Linked DNA regions of Homo sapiens. The protein of the gene in region 3 purifies or fractionates together with the protein of the main gene of each other region. This does not show direct contact. Each region holds a gene or a part of one and is shown on either strand. Other genes may lie near its edges.

Region 1 (3,500 bases), on a different chromosome or scaffold from region 3:
AAATAGATGAAATATGAGGGCTTTGTTAGAGCACATGAAAAATATTTTATACTTTTTTTTTTTTTTTTTGAAACGAAGTCTTGCACTGTCTCCCAGCGGGCTGGAGTGCAGTGGTACGATCTCGGCTCACTGCAACCTCCACCTCCTGAGTTCAAGTGATTCTCCTGCCTCAGCATCCCAAGTAGCTGGGATTACAGGCACCTGCCACCACACCCGGCTAATTTTTTGTATTTTTAGTAGAGACAGGGTTTCAATATGTTGGTCAGGCTAGTCTCAAACTCCTGACCTCGTGATCCGCCTGCCTTGGCCTCCCAAAGTGCCGAGATTGCAGGCGTGAGTCACTGCACCTGCCAAATATTTATGCTTTTAAACTGGATCCTTGATTATGTATTACCTCCTTAATTTACTAGTTACCATTGTAGGATAAAGCAAGCCCTAAAGATTGTTTGGTGTGGCTGTTTTCTAACAAGTCATCAATTAATATTAAAACTGTCATTCTTCCATCTTCACTTTTCAGTTAGTTTTGCTGAGAGGTATTCATATAATCTGTTAAGACATCCTAGGACAGGCCGGGCCCAGTGGCTCACGCCTGTGACCCCAACACTCTGGGAGGCCGAGGCAGGTGCATCATCTGAGGTCGGGAGTTTGAGACCAGCCTGACCAACATGGAGAAACCCCATCTCTACTAAAAATACAAAAATTAGCTGGGCGCAGTGGCACATGCCTGTAATCCCAGCTACTCAGTAGGCTGAGGCAGGAGAATCGCTGGAACCTGGGAGGCGGAGGTTGCGGTGACCCGAGATCACGCCATTGCACTCCAGCCTGGGCAACAGGAGCGAAACTCCGTCTCAAAAAAAAAAAAAAAGAAAAGAAAGCCCGGGCGCGGTGGTTCATGCCTGTAATCCCAGCACTTTGGGAGGCCGAGGCGGGTGGATCACGAGGTCAGGAGATCGAGACCTGACCTCAGGAGATCGAGATCCTGGCTAACGCAGTGAAACACCGTCTCTACTAAAAATACAAAAAAATTAGCCGGGCGTGGTGGCAGGTGCCTGTAGTCCCAGCTAATCGGGAGGCTGAGGCAGGAGAATGGTGTGAACCCGGGAGGCAGAGTTTGCAGTGAGCCGAGATTGTGCCACTGCACTCCAGCCTGGGTGACAGAGCAAGACTCCATCTCAAAAAAAAAAAAAAAGAAAAAAGAAAAGAAAAAGAAATCCTAGGACAGGAGCATAAAGCCTAATAAGCAGGTGCAAACTCACATGTCCAGTCTTGTTAGTAGTACTGATTTATCATAATTTCTTCCAGAACACTTAGCTGTTTTATTACGACCAGGCTTAATGCTAAACAAAGTAGTGTAAATTTGTCAGAAAATTCAGATCCCAGGTTTTTCTGATTATGTAGCCATGCTTTTTTCACTATACTTTTCTTTTCCATATAGGTATGAATGAAAAACCAGAGTAGAGACATCCATTTAGTGGATTATAAATGAGGTATTATGGGCTGGGCATGATGGCTCACGCTCGTAATCCCAGTACTTTGGGAGGCCAAGGCGGTCAGATCATCTGAGGTCAGGAGTTAGAGACCAGCCTGACCAACACGGTGAAACCCTGTCTCTATTAAAAATACAAAATTAGCCAGGTGTGGTGGTGCATGTCTGTAATCCCAGCTACTCAGGAGGCTGAGGCAGGAGAATAGCTTGAACCCAGGAGGCGGAGGTTGCAGTGAGCCGAGATCGCGCCATTGCACTCCAGCCTGGGCAACAGAGCAAAACTCCATCAAAAAAAAAAAAAAAAAAAAAAAAAAGAGGTATTATGATGTAATGGAAAAGAGTGATTGTGAGTGTTAGATATGGCCTTTCCCTTTCGTGCTTCTAGCCACCTTGTCACTGATTTTGGAAACCTCACTTAACCTCTATGGGTGGGCCTCAATTTCCATCTAAAATAGAGAAGTAGGGAGGAATTGGATCAAACCAGCCCAAGAAAATTTAATTAACTATTTCAAACTCTAATGAAAAATCTCTACTTTAAAAATTGAAACACAAAAATGTTCTGGGAGGTTCTATTCATTGTCTGCTTTCCTACATTTGCCCTGATTACAAGACTGAGTTCCTTGATAATTGAAACCATGTCTCTTTATCTAGTGCCTAGCATAGTGCCAAGCACACAGTGTATGCACAGCCTATTGGTATGAAAGAGAACACAACTTCATTAATTCTCATATCTCTCCAGTTCACACCCCTTCATCTCCTGTAAAACACCCCTTCCCCTACAATTATTTCTGTTAGTCTCTAGGTGTTTCTTGTATTCAAGAGTATGTCCACAGTTTGGGTGCCTCTGTGCATTCCTTCTATCTGAGCATCTGCCATCATTGGTGCTCTGCCATGCCACTGCTGGGAACATTTGACCCCTCTGGGAGCATCTTCCTAATAGATCCCATAAACTGCAAAGCCTTATGGTTACCAAAATGATGGTGTATATATATACTTGGAGCCTTGCAAAGCCCCTAATGAAAGTATTTCCTTCACCAGCTAGAAGTACTCTCCTTTAGCGATCAGATTAAAACACACACCCAGGTGTGTGTTTTAAAGAAAAAGGACCCAAGAGGGAAAAAGTTTCCAAGGCATGAATGAATTAAGAGTGGCAAATGCTACTGAGATAGAAAGATTAGGACGGAGAAAACAGCACTCACTCTGACAGTATTCTTTCCAACTGGATTTGGTAAATAAGAGTGAAGAGGTACCTCGAGTGAGCACTGGGAGAAGTCATACTGGAAGGGATAAGCAGTGATTGACATAAGAAAGTAAAATAAATTCAGGTTCATCCAGACACCCCCATAATCTTGCCTTGACCCAGAAACATTGTGTTCACAGGACTTTCAGCTTCCCACCCCCATAAGTAAGCTTCCTAATTATGATATCTTGGTCTTGCCAAGCATTTAGAGGGCCTTACTCTGTGGCCCTCCAGATAGTGATTTGAATGATTAAGTAAACCTCTTTTTAGATAAGTGTTCTAGTCCAGTCTAACATCAGCTTGTTGGTCTTTTTGGCACTGTCATTGTCCAGTACCAGCACATTCTTGGCTCCTTGCCACATCTCTGGCCTCAATGTGGGAGGCAAAGACAGTGAGCATTTCCAGAGTGGTGAGATGGGTGCAGCACATAATGAGGCGATGACCACACAGCATCTCTGAACAGCATGTCCACACAGGGCTCGAAGTCATTATGCTGCATGTCCACCTCATGTCCACAATAGCTGAGCAGTTGAGATTGGTGGAGTGGACCTTCTCATTACTCATCATCTAGAGGAAGGTCCTCATCATCTCTACTTCTCAAAGGGGTAGAATTGAACCTGAACCTGCTTGACAGACAAGAGCCCAAGCCTAACCAAGGTGGCTGCCATGGTGACCCTTGCCCTGAAAGCCATTTCCATTAATTTAAAAATTGTAGGTATATAGGAACTATAATAACAGGCTTAAAATTAAAATTTGCTCTGTTTGTTGGGTCAC
Region 2 (4,452 bases), on a different chromosome or scaffold from region 3:
GTTTATTGCTTTTGGAAACCAGATGTAGGTGGTAGAGGTTTGTGATAAACATTCTCCAATACTTCTTTCTCGGGTAGAAAAGGAGCAAGCTATCTCAAATTTAGGTCTGAGAAAATAAACATTTTTAGATTCTGGGACTAATTAAGGACCTGCTTTAGGCTAGTTTCAGACTTGGAAAACTTTGGCCACTGAACCTGTGCAGAAGACCTCCATTTATAAGAAATAGCTGTCAAAAAGCTACTATATTGAATTGTTTACTTTTTAATTTGACCTGCACTTAGATCCTAGTTGGCTCCTATTTAACACACAGTTAAGTTAGTTGTGTGGTTTCTTAACCCATGAAATGTGAGAAGCAGCATTTTAAAGAGGGTTGATGAGTCAGACGCTACCAAAAAATGTCATGTGGTCTGACATAGAGGCAAAAATGAAAAAGCTAAAAAATCAGCACGATTATGTTATCACACAATCAAATAGTTTACGTTCAATATAATGATCCTAAACCATCAGGGGAAAGTTTTTATGTCCAAGGATGTTTAACAAGTTACATAATTATATAAACATTTTGGACCTATGTATTTAAAATGCTTAAAATAAGTCTCAGTACCTGAACATAAAAACTTTAGTTATACGGACATTCTACTTCAGTAGACATTTCATTACTTGATGATGCCTGGTAGGAAAAAACTGCTACTTTGCTTTCATCTTATTAATCTTAGAAAACCTTTTCATTCAGTAGGCTTCTAATTTATATGTAAATTTGCCAAAAATTGGCTCTGATGTGATTTTTTTCACAGCTAATAGAAATCACCTGCGAGTGTCAGGTGTTCATTCAATAACAGAACCCCAAAAAGAAAGACGTATTAATCGTTTAGTAGAGGTGGTTGATATAAGTTAACAGAAGAAAAAGACATTGAGAAATATTTTTTCACCAAAACTGGAAACATAGATATTTTGAAAATTAAAGCTGATCTAGCAAGTATACAATTGATCAAATATCTGAGAATCTTTAAAAATAATAACTCATTGGTATACTAGAGACTAAGATTGTAAAAAAAAATTGAGATGCACTGAGAACATTCTTCATAGTCTTCACTTACTCTGATAGAATAAAATGCTGCAAGAGTACAAAGAGTGCCATATAGTTAGAAAGGTTATCACTTCGTGATACAGAATAGAAAATAAATCTTGCCTATGATGAGAAGTTCTGAGAACAGATGCCAGCTTATCTACTCAACATATTTTACAACTTTTTTTTTTTTTGGTGATTTCTGCCATCCTTTTTTTCCCCCAATAGAGTGTTAAATACTATTGATTGTTTCTAAATAACTAAATTAGCCTTGATGTTTTATCAGTGATCATTGAAAAATGGAAAGTTTAAAAGTTGTCCAGGTGTCTACTAATTCTCCTAAGATATCGACTGCACATTGTAATGTTATAGTAGTATAGTCAGCAGCTTCTCTTACCATGAAGAGAGAGCCTTCATACCAAAATAGTACAAAGGGAAAAATGCAGAACCAAACTAGGTGTCAAAGAAATCTGAGTTAATAATGCTGATCCTTCAATCATTAGATATTTGCCCTTGGTTGAGGTTTCTGTTTACAAAGGCAGGAATTTTTCTCAAATTTCTTGCCTTTCCATTTTTGAATTTTGATTCCATTAATGGGCAAAACTGAAGATAGGCCTAAGTCATTGTTATATTAGTGTCATTAACACATGAATTAACCCTTGATTGTCTTGAAATTTGTTGAGTCTTCCAACTGTGGAGGGGACATGGAGTAAATGTGTATTGCTAAAACCTTATGCTAAGTAAACTTGAAATTAGAGAACACAAATTTTATGTTGTGAGGAACTCAATTGTTTAGGAATTTATTTTTTGTTTGTTTTGTTTTGTTTTAGAGAGAGGGTCTTGCTGTGTTGTCCAGGCTGGAATGCGGTGGCATGATCATAGCTCACTATAATTGTGAACTCCTGGGCTCAAGCAATCTTCCTGCCTTGACCTTCCAAAGTACTAGAATTATAGATGTAAGCTACCATGTCCAGCTTCTGTTTAGGTATTTTATACTACGAAGAGTCACCAGCCGTAGATCAACCACTATCTAGCCAGCTCCAGCTTCCTCGTCCAGCATATAGGAAACTAAGGCCTAGGGAAATTAAGTGACTTGCCTCTGGTGACCAAGCTAGTCAGTGGCAGAGCCAGAATGAGAAACTAGTCTAATGCCCTTTCTACCATCCCGTAGCAACTTTTTTTTTTTTTTTGAGACGGAGTCTCACTCTGTCGCCCAGGCTGGAGTGCAGTGGTGCGATCTCAGCTCACTGCAACCTCTGCCTCCCAGGTTCAAGCAATTCTCCTGCCTCAGCCTCCCGAGTAGCTGGGATTACAGGCGCACACCACCATGCCCGGCTAATTTTTTGTATTTTTAGTAGAGACAGGGTTTCACCATGTTGGCCAGGCTGGCCTCGAACGCCTGACCTCATGATCCACCCGCCTTGGCCTCCCAAAGTGCTGGGATTACAGGCATGAGCCACCGCGCCCAGCCCCTGTAGCAACTTTTATGAGGTAAACTAAAAAAGAATACAAAAGCGAAGTTATGTACTATATTTAAGTAGTATTTATAGTTTCATTTGGCCTATAGGAATGGAAGACAGCATAGCTATCTGAAGAAATAGAACTCATCTATGTGTGATCTCTGAGACTGCTAGATTTCCACATACATTTTCTTTTCTGTTTTTTTAATTTTTTGTTCTTGTTTTTTTGTTTTTTTGAGAGACAGGGTCTCACCATGTTACCCAGACTGGTCTCAAATTCCTGGGCTCAAGCAGTCTGCCCACCTAGGCCTCCTGAAGTGCTGGAATTACAGGTGTAAGCCACTGCACCCAGCCTCATGTACATTTTCAAAGGCTTTATAGCAGTTAAGCCTTTTACTTTATAATAGATAACCATTCTGATTCAGAAATAATTTGAGACGAGTGCTATCTTGAAATGAATTAACTTCAGCTAACTATTGAATCAAAAGCTTGACATTATTTCTACTTAGAGTTACTTATTTTTATCTTTTTTCAAACTTAGAATCACTTTAATTACATTTCTAACTGTATGTGTTTTGTAAGAACCGCTTAACAATATCCTTTGTCCTGATGCTAGAAATTGTTTGATAGTGTTGACACTGTGCAATCTATTTAAATAGATTTGTGGATTTCTCCTATGTCCACTGAATAAAAACTCTTGGTTTTACTTGAGTTTATTACACTATTTTCCTACAGTTCAGAATTTTTTTTTAAGTAACCAGCAGCATATGTTACATATTTTGACAACTTAAAAAAAATCAAAAATCTTCAAAAATGTTTTGGAAGAATAACAAGATTTTTTCATCTTACCTTAAAAAAAATTAAGATGAGAGGTGAGTAGTTATCCTAGGAAACTCTGAAGTAAGCAATATAATTTAAGCAAAACCTCTATATTCTTCAACAACTATCTTTTTTCTTTAATCTCAATAACTGCCTCAGTTCTCATTTTTGTGAGTATAAATAACAGGCCCCCTTTTTTATTTAATTGGGGTTAAAGTCAATTTTATAGGAAATTTCTAGTTGATCTGTGACTTGAATTACTAGCATATATGTTACATTTATAAGTACAGCTGGGGCTGGGCGTGATGGCTCACGCCTATAAACCCAGCACTTTGGGAGGCCGAGGCGGGTGGATCACCTGAGGTCAGGAGTTCAAGACCAGCCTGGCCAGCATGGTGAAACCTCATCTCTACTAAAAATACAAAAATTAGCTGGGCGTGGTGGTGGGCACCTGTAATCCCAGCTACTTAGGAGGCTGAGGCAGGAGAATCACTTGAACACCTGGGAGGTGGAGATTGTAGTGGGCCGAGATTGCACCCATTGCACTCCAGCCTGGGCAACAGAGTGAGACTCCGTCTCAAAAAAAAAAAAAAAAAAATCAGCCAGTGGCGCATGCCTGTAATTCTAGCACTTTGGGTAGCTGAAGTGGGTGGATCTCTTGAGCCTAGGAGTTTGGGACCAGCCTCAGCAACATGGTGAAACCCTGTCTCTAAAAATGTATATAAATTAGCTGAGCATGGTGGTACACTCCTGTAGTCCCAGCCTCTTGGGAGGTTTGAAGTTGGAGGATCGATCACCTGAGCCCAGGAGGTAGAGTCTGCAGTGAGTTGTGATTGTGCCACTGCACTCCAGCCTGGGCAACAGAGTGAAACCCATCTCAAAAAAATAAAAATACATCAGAATGTTTTATTGTACAACCAATTTCATTGGTACATACAAAAATGTAATCAAAACAATGGACTTTTTTTGATGTTTTAAACAATTTTTTTTTTAGGAATTAGTAGAAAGAAAATAAGGGAAAGAAAATGGGGTTATGTTTATGAATACTTAAATAGACCAGAAGTAGAAAACTGTGGTTTGCTTGCTGGCATTGAGCTGTATTAGGAT
Region 3 (4,452 bases):
TGGGATTACGGGCATGAGCTACTGTGCCCAGCCTTTTTAAAATTTTTTATTTTTTAAAAAAGAGACAGGGTCTCACTATATTGCCCAGGCTGGAGTGCAGTGACTGTTCACAGGAGCAATACTGCACACTATAGCCTTGAACTCTTGGCCTTAAGCAATCCTCCCGCCTCAGCCTCCAGAGTAGCTAGGACTCCATGCTTGGCTGTGACTTCATTTATGTCCCTTTTTTTTTTTGAGACGGAGTCTCGCTCTGTCGTTCAGACTGGAGTGCAGTGGCACGATCTCGGCTCAGTGCAACCTCCGCCTCCGGATTCAAGCAATTCTCCTGCCTCAGCCTGCTGAGTAGCTGGAACTACAACTGTATGCCAACACGCCCAGCTAATTTTGTGTATTTTTAGTAGAGACAGGGTTTCACCATGTTAGCCAGGATGGTCTCGATCTCCTGACCTCATGATCTGCCCGCCTCGGCCTCCCAAAGTGTTGGGATTACATGCATGAGCCACCGCACCTGGCCTATTTCTGTCCCTTCTAATCTCTCTCATTCATGTCTCTTTTCTACTTCATGCTATCTCATATTTAGAGCCAACAGCCTTTCTTCTAGTGAGATACATCTTGGAGATCGTATATGCCCTAGAGGCATGACCTGAATTTATGTTTGAATAAATAATTCTCAGCAAGAACTGGCTTACTGTAAAACTTGTTAATATGTGTTCAAAATACTATGGTGTATAACTCAAAGCAACTGCATTCTAACTCATGTTCTCAGTCATTTAGCTGCCTAGGAGAAAGGTTAATTAATAGTGATTAATTATAATTAAGTGTCTGAAGTTATGATTCTGTATTTTCTCAGATAAAAGGAGATAAGCTTAACTTGTAAGGAGTATTTGTAGGATACCAAAAACTCCCTAACTATATCTATCAATTTATCTATTTATCTATCTATCTATCTAGATAGATATAGGTATTTATTATTATTATTATTTGAGACAGGGTTTCACTCTGTCGCCCAGATTGGAGTGCAGTGGTGTGTCTCGGCTCACTGCAACCTCCCACCTCCCAGGCTCAAGCGATTCTCCTGCTTCAGCCTCCTAAGTACCTGGATTACAGGCATGCGCCACCACGCCTGGCTAATTTTTGTATTTTCAGTAAAGATGGGGTTTTACCATGTTGGCTAGGCTGGTTTCGAACTCCTGACCTCAAATGATCCACCCGTGTCGGCCTCCCAAAGTGCTGGGATTATAGGCGTGAGCCACTGTGCCCGGCCTATTATTATTTTTTTAGACAAGGTCTTATTCTGGCATGATCTCAGTTCACTGCAGCCTCAACCTCCAGGGCTCAAGTGATCCTCCAATCTCAGCCTTCCCAGTAGCTGGAACTACAGGCGCACACCACCACACCCAGCTAATTTTTGTATTTTTTGTAGAGATGGGGTTTTGCCATGTTGCCCAGGCTGGTCTTGAACTCCTGAACTCTGGTGATCAGCCCACCTCAGCCTCCCAAAGTGCTGGGATTATAGGCATGTGCCACTGCGCCCAGCTCCTAACTATATTTTTATGTAGAAGAATTTGATGGGTCGTCGCTCTGGCTCACGCCTATAATCCCAGCACTTTAAGAGGCCGAGGCAGGCAGATCACCTGAGGTCAGAAGTTCAAGACCAGCTTGGCCAACGTGGTGAACCCGGTCTCTACTAAAAATACAAAAATTAACCAGGCATGTTGGTGGGTGCCTGTAATCCCAGCTACTTGAGAGGCTGAGACAGGAGAATCTCTTGAACCTTGAACCCGGGAGGCGGAGGTTGCAGTGAGCTGAGATAGTGCCACTGCACTCCAGCCTGGGTGACAGAGCGAGACTCCATCTCAAAAAAGAAAAAAAAAAAAGAATTTGATGGGTCACCTATCTTCAAGGAAGGCAAATTTCTGACTCTGAAGAGAAAAAACAGACATTAAAAATCTCAGCCTTGCCGGGTGCGGTGGCTCACGCCTGTAATCCAAGCACTTTGGGAGGCCGAGGTGGGCAGATCATGAGGTCAGGAGATCGAGACCATCGTGGCCAACACGGTGAAACCCTGTCTCTACTAAAAATACACAAAATTAGGTGGGCGTGGTGGCGGGCGCCTGTAGTCCTAGCTACTCAGGAGGCTGAGGCAGGAGAATGGCATGAACCCGGGAGGCGGAACTTGCAGTGAGCCGAGATCGCGCCACTGCACTCCAGCCTGGGCTACAGAGCAAGACTCTGTCTCAAAAAAAAAAAAAAAAAAAAAAAAAATCTCAGCCTTGGCTGAGCATGGTGGCTTATGCTTGTCATCCCAGCTACTAGGGAGGGTAAGATGGGAGGACTGCTTGAGCCCATGAGTTTGAGAGCAGCCTGGGCAACAAAGCGAGACCACATCTCTAAAAAAAATTTAAAAAATTAGTTGGGCTCAGTGGCGTGCACCTGTAGTCCCAGCTACCTGGAAGGCTGAGGTGGGAAGGCTGCTTGAGCCTAGGAGTTTGGAGGCTGCAGTGAGCTCTGATGGTACCACTGCACTCCAGCCTGGGCAACACAGTGAGACCCTGTCTCCCAACCAAAAAATCTCAGGCTCTTTCAAGGGATAAAGTCCTAAACAGAGAGAATTACTCACCATTCTGCAGTTCAAGGTAGACTGCCAGCAAGATGGCCTCAGGGGGCACCTCTTTAGGATGGATCATTGAAGCCGCCTTTGCTCAAAACAGAAAGATGCCCGTGAAAAAACAAAAGCTTAAGATACACACTCCAAGTACATCTGCCAACCAACAAGGTAACAAACTTATTCAAGCTCATTCCCACGTGACTTCCTAGGGACTACCTGTTGTTCTGCTCTGATGAGCCTCAGTTCCTTTTGTCTTAAAACCTAACAATTAAGCTAGACATGTAATACTCTGGGTTTTGAGATGGGTGACTGGACACCCCGATACTACAGTCAACCATCCAATTCTGCTGGTGGCTTTCACAACAGACACATACAGTTGCAATTACATCAAAATCTGCATGCCCATTTGTTTTCCTAAGTAACACTTCAGTATTACAAACTGTAAGTTGTCAATGTCAGGAATAATAATTCAAACTTATAGTAATACAGAAAAAACGTACCACGTAGCATGTTTGAGGTCTCCATTCTTAAGGACTGAAACACACTTCAATTTAGTCCAATAAAATAATTTACTAGTTTAGGCAACATGCTGCCCTTAGATCTGAGTAAGAGCCATAGCATCGGCCAGCAGTTTCTCTCTGATCCAGTCCTGAAGAAGGAAGCCTGGACTGCTCTGGACAGAAGTGCTGAAATTACAGGTTTATTTCCTCAGTCTGGGCCTCTTTGAGCTACAGCCAAAATATTCCTCACCTTATTATCAACTTGTACTTCCCCATCTAGTTTTAGTTGCTCATTGCTTCCAGACAGCTCTGCCTCTTCTCTTAATCTAATCAGATAATAGACTTCTACAAATACTTATTGAACAGAGGTGGGTATGGAGATAAGACAGGGACTTCCCCTGATAACAAACAAGCATGCAAATAACTAACAATAATCCAAACACAGTTACGTAAATGCCAGGGAGAAAGGCAGTGAATGTGCTGTGAATATGGAGAGAAAGGAAGAAGTTTCTTTCAAACAGAGCTTTGGGGTAAGGGAGGCCTGCTTTAGTCCTTGCAGGGTAGATATCTCACAGGTAGAAAATGGGGAGAAATGGTACTGAAGGTAGCAGCTTGAACGTGGGAGATGTTGGGGAAGACCAGAAACGTGTACTAGGTTGGTTTCTGGCAGCATTAGGAGAAATCTCAGACTAGCGGGGCATGTTGCCCAGAGCATGTGCTTCTAAGAAGTTCCTCATGAATGAGGTGGGGAGGCTTTTATTCCTCTCGCCACAACACTGAGGTATAACAACTCTTTTCAGAAAATGAGATTTTATATATCTAAGCCTAGCTTTCTAGGCAAGCTGTATAGGCAAGATCGTCTTTATACCATTTTGTGGATTTTTTTTTTTTGAGACGGAGTTTTGCTCTTGTTGCCCAGGCTGGAGTGCAATTGCACGATCTAGGCTCACTGCAACCTCCGCCTCCTGGGTTCAAGCGATTCTTCTGCCTCAGCCTCCCAAGTAGCTGGGATTACAGGCTCCTGCCACCACGCCCAGCTAATTTCTTGTATTTTTAGTATAGACGGGGTTTCATCATGTTGTCCAGGCTAGTCTTGAACTCCTCACCTCAGATGATCCACCCGCCTTGGCCTCCCAAAGTGCTGGGATTACAGATGTGAGCCACTGTGCCCGGCCCATTTTGTGGATAGTAAAATCTCTGTTTTCCATCCAAGTGGCTAGTAACACATTTTATTTACTGTTTTTTTCAATGACCACAGTCTGAAGCTTTTTTTAAAATACAAGAATTCAAGGCAACATCTTTATGATACTTAATGGCATTTTGCTTACTGGCTGTTCAGAATGG
Region 4 (4,452 bases), on a different chromosome or scaffold from region 3:
TCCTTCTGACCTAGGAGGCAGACGGCAAAGGTCCAGAATGCAAACTTTGAGGAAACTGAACACAACAAGGAGACGTGATAGGGACAGAAACCACCCTCTAACCAGAAGAGGCAGTCTGGGGCCTGGCTGCAGGGACCCAAATTCTGACACCATCTTCATACCGTTCATCTGGGGCATGTCCGACTGAGGTTCCTCTTTGAGCCTCAGTTTGCCTCTTCTGTGAAGTGAGAGTTTCCCTTTTCATCAGGGTAATACAGTGAGGTCAGCGGATGCCCAGAGCTTAGGTCACCTACCCTGAGGATTTCTCTGGCTTGGGAGGTAACGTGAGGGGCTTTCCCAGTCCTGGGACCTTGCAGGATTTCGAACGCTGGACCGCGGACTCCTTCTGGCTCGACTTGCTCTCAGCCAGCTCTCCCTCCTCAGCTGAGCGATTCCGGGGGCGCAGCTTGGCCTGAGAAGCAAGTCCAGAAGCAGATAGATAGTAGAGGGACAGGCAGTAGGACTCTCAGGGGGTAAGACCTTATCTCAAGAGTGTGCAGTCCCCAGAATCAAGCAGAGACCCCTCTGCAGTCCTTTCACCCCAAAGGATGGGAAGTCACTTAGAGATGCACTTCCCGCAGAACTGAGCTATGCCTTGCACACCTTTCTGTCCTCAAAAACATATGGCAGGATTGAATTCAGACAAACTGGGTGGGACAAAGCCAGTGGTGACTTCCCACCCCTGTTCCCTCTGCCTGCAATGCCACCCCACCATCCCAGCTCCAGGAGCCAACTCCTGTGCCTGCCGCCGGCTAAGATCAAATACATACAAGAGGCCTTCTCCAATCCACCCTCCCTTCCCATCCCCCTCCACTCTGCTGTTAGGAAATAACTCCTCTCTCTCTGAACAGGCCCAGCCCTTATCTGTGCCTCTCCTCAGGGACACCTAAACTTCTTCTCTCATCCAGGCTAATTATGGGCATCATGTCTCCCACTGCCCCTGAGGTTCCAGAATAAGAACACATCTTGTTCTTCTTTCCATCCCATTTGGCACACAGCATAGGGCCCGGCGGGGCACAAAGGGATCTTCTGGAGCCCTCGATGGAGAGGAGAGTGAGAGGAGGAATGGGAGAGGGGGACAGGGGAATGAATTGATGGATGAAGAGAAGAAAGACAGCATGCAAGGTGGCCACCTGGCCAGATGGCTGGACATGTTTGCTTAATGATCAGATGGTACCTTCAGGGCTGAGGGGCTCAGGCCAGGAAAGAGGTTGACTTTCAGCCCCTTGGTGCCCAACGACATCCGTGTCCGGCGGCTCTGAGGTTCCTCCACTACCTCTTCATCTGAAGATGGCACCCGAGATGCCCGTGGCTCTGCAAAGGCCCGGGAAAGGGGCTCAGAAAAGGCAGCACACCCAGACTCCCCGAACCCATAACCCCTGCAAAAGCTTGGCCTAATGCCCTAGAGATCAAGAGACATCACCAAATAATACATCAGCCCTACCTGTAGAGTCCTGGAACAGGTGTGCATCCGAGTCTGCTGCCTCCGACAGGCCCAAGGTACCCCCAGGCCGAATGACCGGGGCCCGGTGCCCACGCTTGCGCCCCAAGTTGGCACGGCTCCGATACATGGCACTGTCGAGGATCTCGGTGTCCTGCTTGGGGCAATGGTGACACCACTGCCATTGCTGCCTCATCCCACGGGAGCCCCTCAACAGTAGCTGACCAGGAGCTGGACCCCTCCTGCAGCCGGAGCTTCACGTTCACGTGACGCACCTACAACCCGCTTTCTGCCTCCTGGACTGGGACTGCTCAGGGAAGCTCCAGGAATGGGGCTCTCGCTGCATCGCCCTCACCCACCCACTGTCATGGGCTCACCCTCCACTGACCTCAATGAAGGAGAAGTCCTGACTGGGGGATCTGGCAGGAGGGCCTTGGGAGGGTCGCCGAGAAGTCTGTGCTGGCCCCTGATCGCTCCACCTGGCTGCTGAAGAGCCCCAGGTGCCATCCACGTCTTCTGTCTGGCTGGCCTCACCATCAGGCTGCGGCCTCCAGGAGGGTGGAGAGTCCCTGCCAGGCTCCAGCACCTCCTCTTGGGCAGCACCTGCCCCGGCTCCTTCCTCCTCCAACAGGCCCCCAAGGCCCGAGGCCGCTGACTCCCTCCGAGCCACCGCCTTGGAGCTGCTGGCTGCCAGCATCTCCTCCAGCAGGCCCTGGGAGCCGGAGGGTGGGGGGCGGGCCGGGCACCTGCCAGGGCTGTAAAGGGGACAGAGAGAGAACGAGATCATCGTAAGGCCCCATCTCCCTGCCCTGAAGCCTACTTCACAAGCTCCTTCCCCCAGCCCCCAAACTCTCCCTTGCCCTCCTTCCCATGCTTTTTCCAGACTCCAAGGACACGGTCAGGGCCTTGAGCAACACAGCACACAGGTGAAGAGCTGAGCCAGTCTGGCAGGTTCAAATCCCTGAGACCTCGGGTGAGCCCCCTCCCCTGGAAACAGCTCAGGCTCCTCTAACTGCACGGAGTCGCTGCAAGGATGAAAGAAAAATCTAAAGCACTTAGCACAGTCCTGGTCAGCACGCACCGCAGAAGCAGCAGCCATTATTCCTGCTGCTGTTGCATGCTAGCAATGTGTTCCCTCCCAGGGCCACGTGCTCGGGCAGTCACACTCCTTGGGGTGAGCCAGGTACTGGCCCACCTGCCTCTCCGGACTCATGTTGTCTTCAGCCCCCACGTTATGCCTCTTCATTCCCCAGGCTCACAGAGCAACCAGGGACCATCAGAAGACACCCGGCCCTCACATGCTGCTGGCTTTGAACGAGCTGCTCCCTCTTCTGGAAAGCTCCCCGCACCACACCGTCCCTGGTGGTACTGTCCCCTTGGTTCAATTCTGCTTCCGAAGCTGCCCTGCCCCCTCCCAGCCACCATGGCCGCCTCAGCCCTACCAGCCCTGGGCTCCAATCCATGCCAGTTCCTGCTTCTTTCCTGTGGTTCTTTGTCCCCATAGCCTGTCGGTGAGCTCCTCAAGGGCAAAAACGGGGCCCTTTCTGCCTTTATGCCCCCAGCACCTGACCCAGAGCCTGGCTACGCGCCGGACTAAGCAAATGTTTGCCAAGCAAATGAGGGGCTGGGTCACCTTGGACCTCCATGCAGCATATGCATCTTCTGTCTGCTGCTTCCTCAAAACACAATACAGCTGGACATGGGGTGCAGGGCTCACGCCTGTAATTCCAGCTACTTGGGAGGCCAGGGCAGGGGGATCACGTGAGCCCAGGAGTTCAAGACCAGCCTGGGCAACATAGCAAGACCCCATCTAAAAACAAAATACAAACACGGCACAAGCACACCACACACTCTCTCACTAACTCATACTGCCCGCCCTGTCCAGCGGCCACTCCCCAAAATGACACATTCACATTCATCACCATCACACACACTCAGGCAGAGAGCTTGTGCGCTGTTTGTCACTCCCCCAGATGGACCTCGCACCCACCACATCTACAGGCACGGCACAGAGCCACACCTGACACAAACACACGCATCCCCGCATCCCCACACCCCCACCCCACACACACACACTCATACTACGCACAGAGGTGTGGGAAAGCCTGGCACGGCAGTGCCTGGAAGCCAGGCCCCAGGTTCCCACTGGGATTAAAGCAGGAGGAGAGTGGGGCAGGTGAGTCAATACCAAGCAGGAAGAGGGGGCAGGGAGAGAGAGCATGAGTGGTAGTCTGTCCTTCCACAAGCTGCTGACAGATGGAAATTAAAGTGGTCTGGGGAGAGACATTGGGGGAGGAGGCAGTGGCGGCAGCAGAAGTACAGCAAGGCAGCAGAATTGGGAGCAGCCCTGGCTGGGGGCCAAAGCCAGCTCACCCTGACAGCCAGCTTAAAATCAGGGAGAATTTGGAGGGAGGGGGTGGCAACAGCACCCCACCCAGACTACAGAGGCCAGGCCCAAAGCCTCTCCCTGGGGTGGGGCAAAAGAAGGCTAAGGGCAGGCCCCATGAGCTAAAGAGATGTGAAATGCCCTGGCTCACGCCTGTAATCCCAGCACTTTGGGAGGCCAAAACAGGCGGATCACCTGAGGTCAGGAGTTCCAGACCAGCCTGGACAACATGGTGAAACTCTGTTTCTACTAAAAATACAAAAATTAGCCAGGCATGGTGGCAGGCACCTGTAATCCCAGCTTCTTGGGGGAGACTGAGGCAGGAGAATCGCTTGAACCCGGGTGGTGGAGGTTGCAGTGAGCCAAGACCGCGCCACTGCACTCCAGCCCAGGCAACAAGAGCAAAACTCCGTCTCAAAAAAAAAAAAAAAAAAAAAAATCCACTCCTAAAGCGAGAGGTGGCCCAAGCCACTCAGGCAGAGGTCAGTGAGCTCTGGAGGTGGCCTTGAGGAGCAGAGAGTGGCGAGTGGGGAAAACCCAAGAAAGTGCAGCTACGTCCACCCCGCCGGACTAAACCCCACTCGCC

What was found.
Region 1: the proteins of CNOT10 (region 3) and CAPZA1 purify together in Homo sapiens (affinity purification with mass spectrometry; one large-scale study listed by BioGRID and IntAct). This does not show direct contact.
Region 2: the proteins of CNOT10 (region 3) and BTG3 purify together in Homo sapiens (affinity purification with mass spectrometry; one large-scale study listed by BioGRID and IntAct). This does not show direct contact.
Region 4: the proteins of CNOT10 (region 3) and TNKS1BP1 purify together in Homo sapiens (affinity purification with mass spectrometry; 4 studies listed by BioGRID and IntAct, with this or other methods). This does not show direct contact.

The regions. Positions count from the first base shown.
Region 1 is NC_000001.11:112,622,832-112,626,331, forward strand, and holds part of CAPZA1 (F-actin-capping protein subunit alpha-1), read left to right. Parts: intron 1-3,500. UniProt on the Homo sapiens protein: F-actin-capping proteins bind in a Ca(2+)-independent manner to the fast growing ends of actin filaments (barbed end) thereby blocking the exchange of subunits at these ends.
Region 2 is NC_000021.9:17,598,967-17,603,418, reverse strand, and holds part of BTG3 (protein BTG3), read left to right. Parts: intron 1-4,452. UniProt on the Homo sapiens protein: Overexpression impairs serum-induced cell cycle progression from the G0/G1 to S phase.
Region 3 is NC_000003.12:32,768,131-32,772,582, reverse strand, and holds part of CNOT10 (CCR4-NOT transcription complex subunit 10), read right to left. Parts: exon of another isoform or gene 4,437-4,452; intron 2,697-4,436; coding exon 2,621-2,696; intron 1-2,620. UniProt on the Homo sapiens protein: Component of the CCR4-NOT complex which is one of the major cellular mRNA deadenylases and is linked to various cellular processes including bulk mRNA degradation, miRNA-mediated repression, translational repression during translational initiation and general transcription regulation.
Region 4 is NC_000011.10:57,300,591-57,305,042, forward strand, and holds part of TNKS1BP1 (182 kDa tankyrase-1-binding protein), read right to left. Parts: intron 2,506-4,452; coding exon of another isoform or gene 2,379-2,505; exon of another isoform or gene 2,275-2,378; intron 2,236-2,274; coding exon 1,869-2,235; intron 1,635-1,868; coding exon 1,484-1,634; intron 1,354-1,483; coding exon 1,217-1,353; intron 452-1,216; coding exon 294-451; intron 11-293; coding exon 1-10.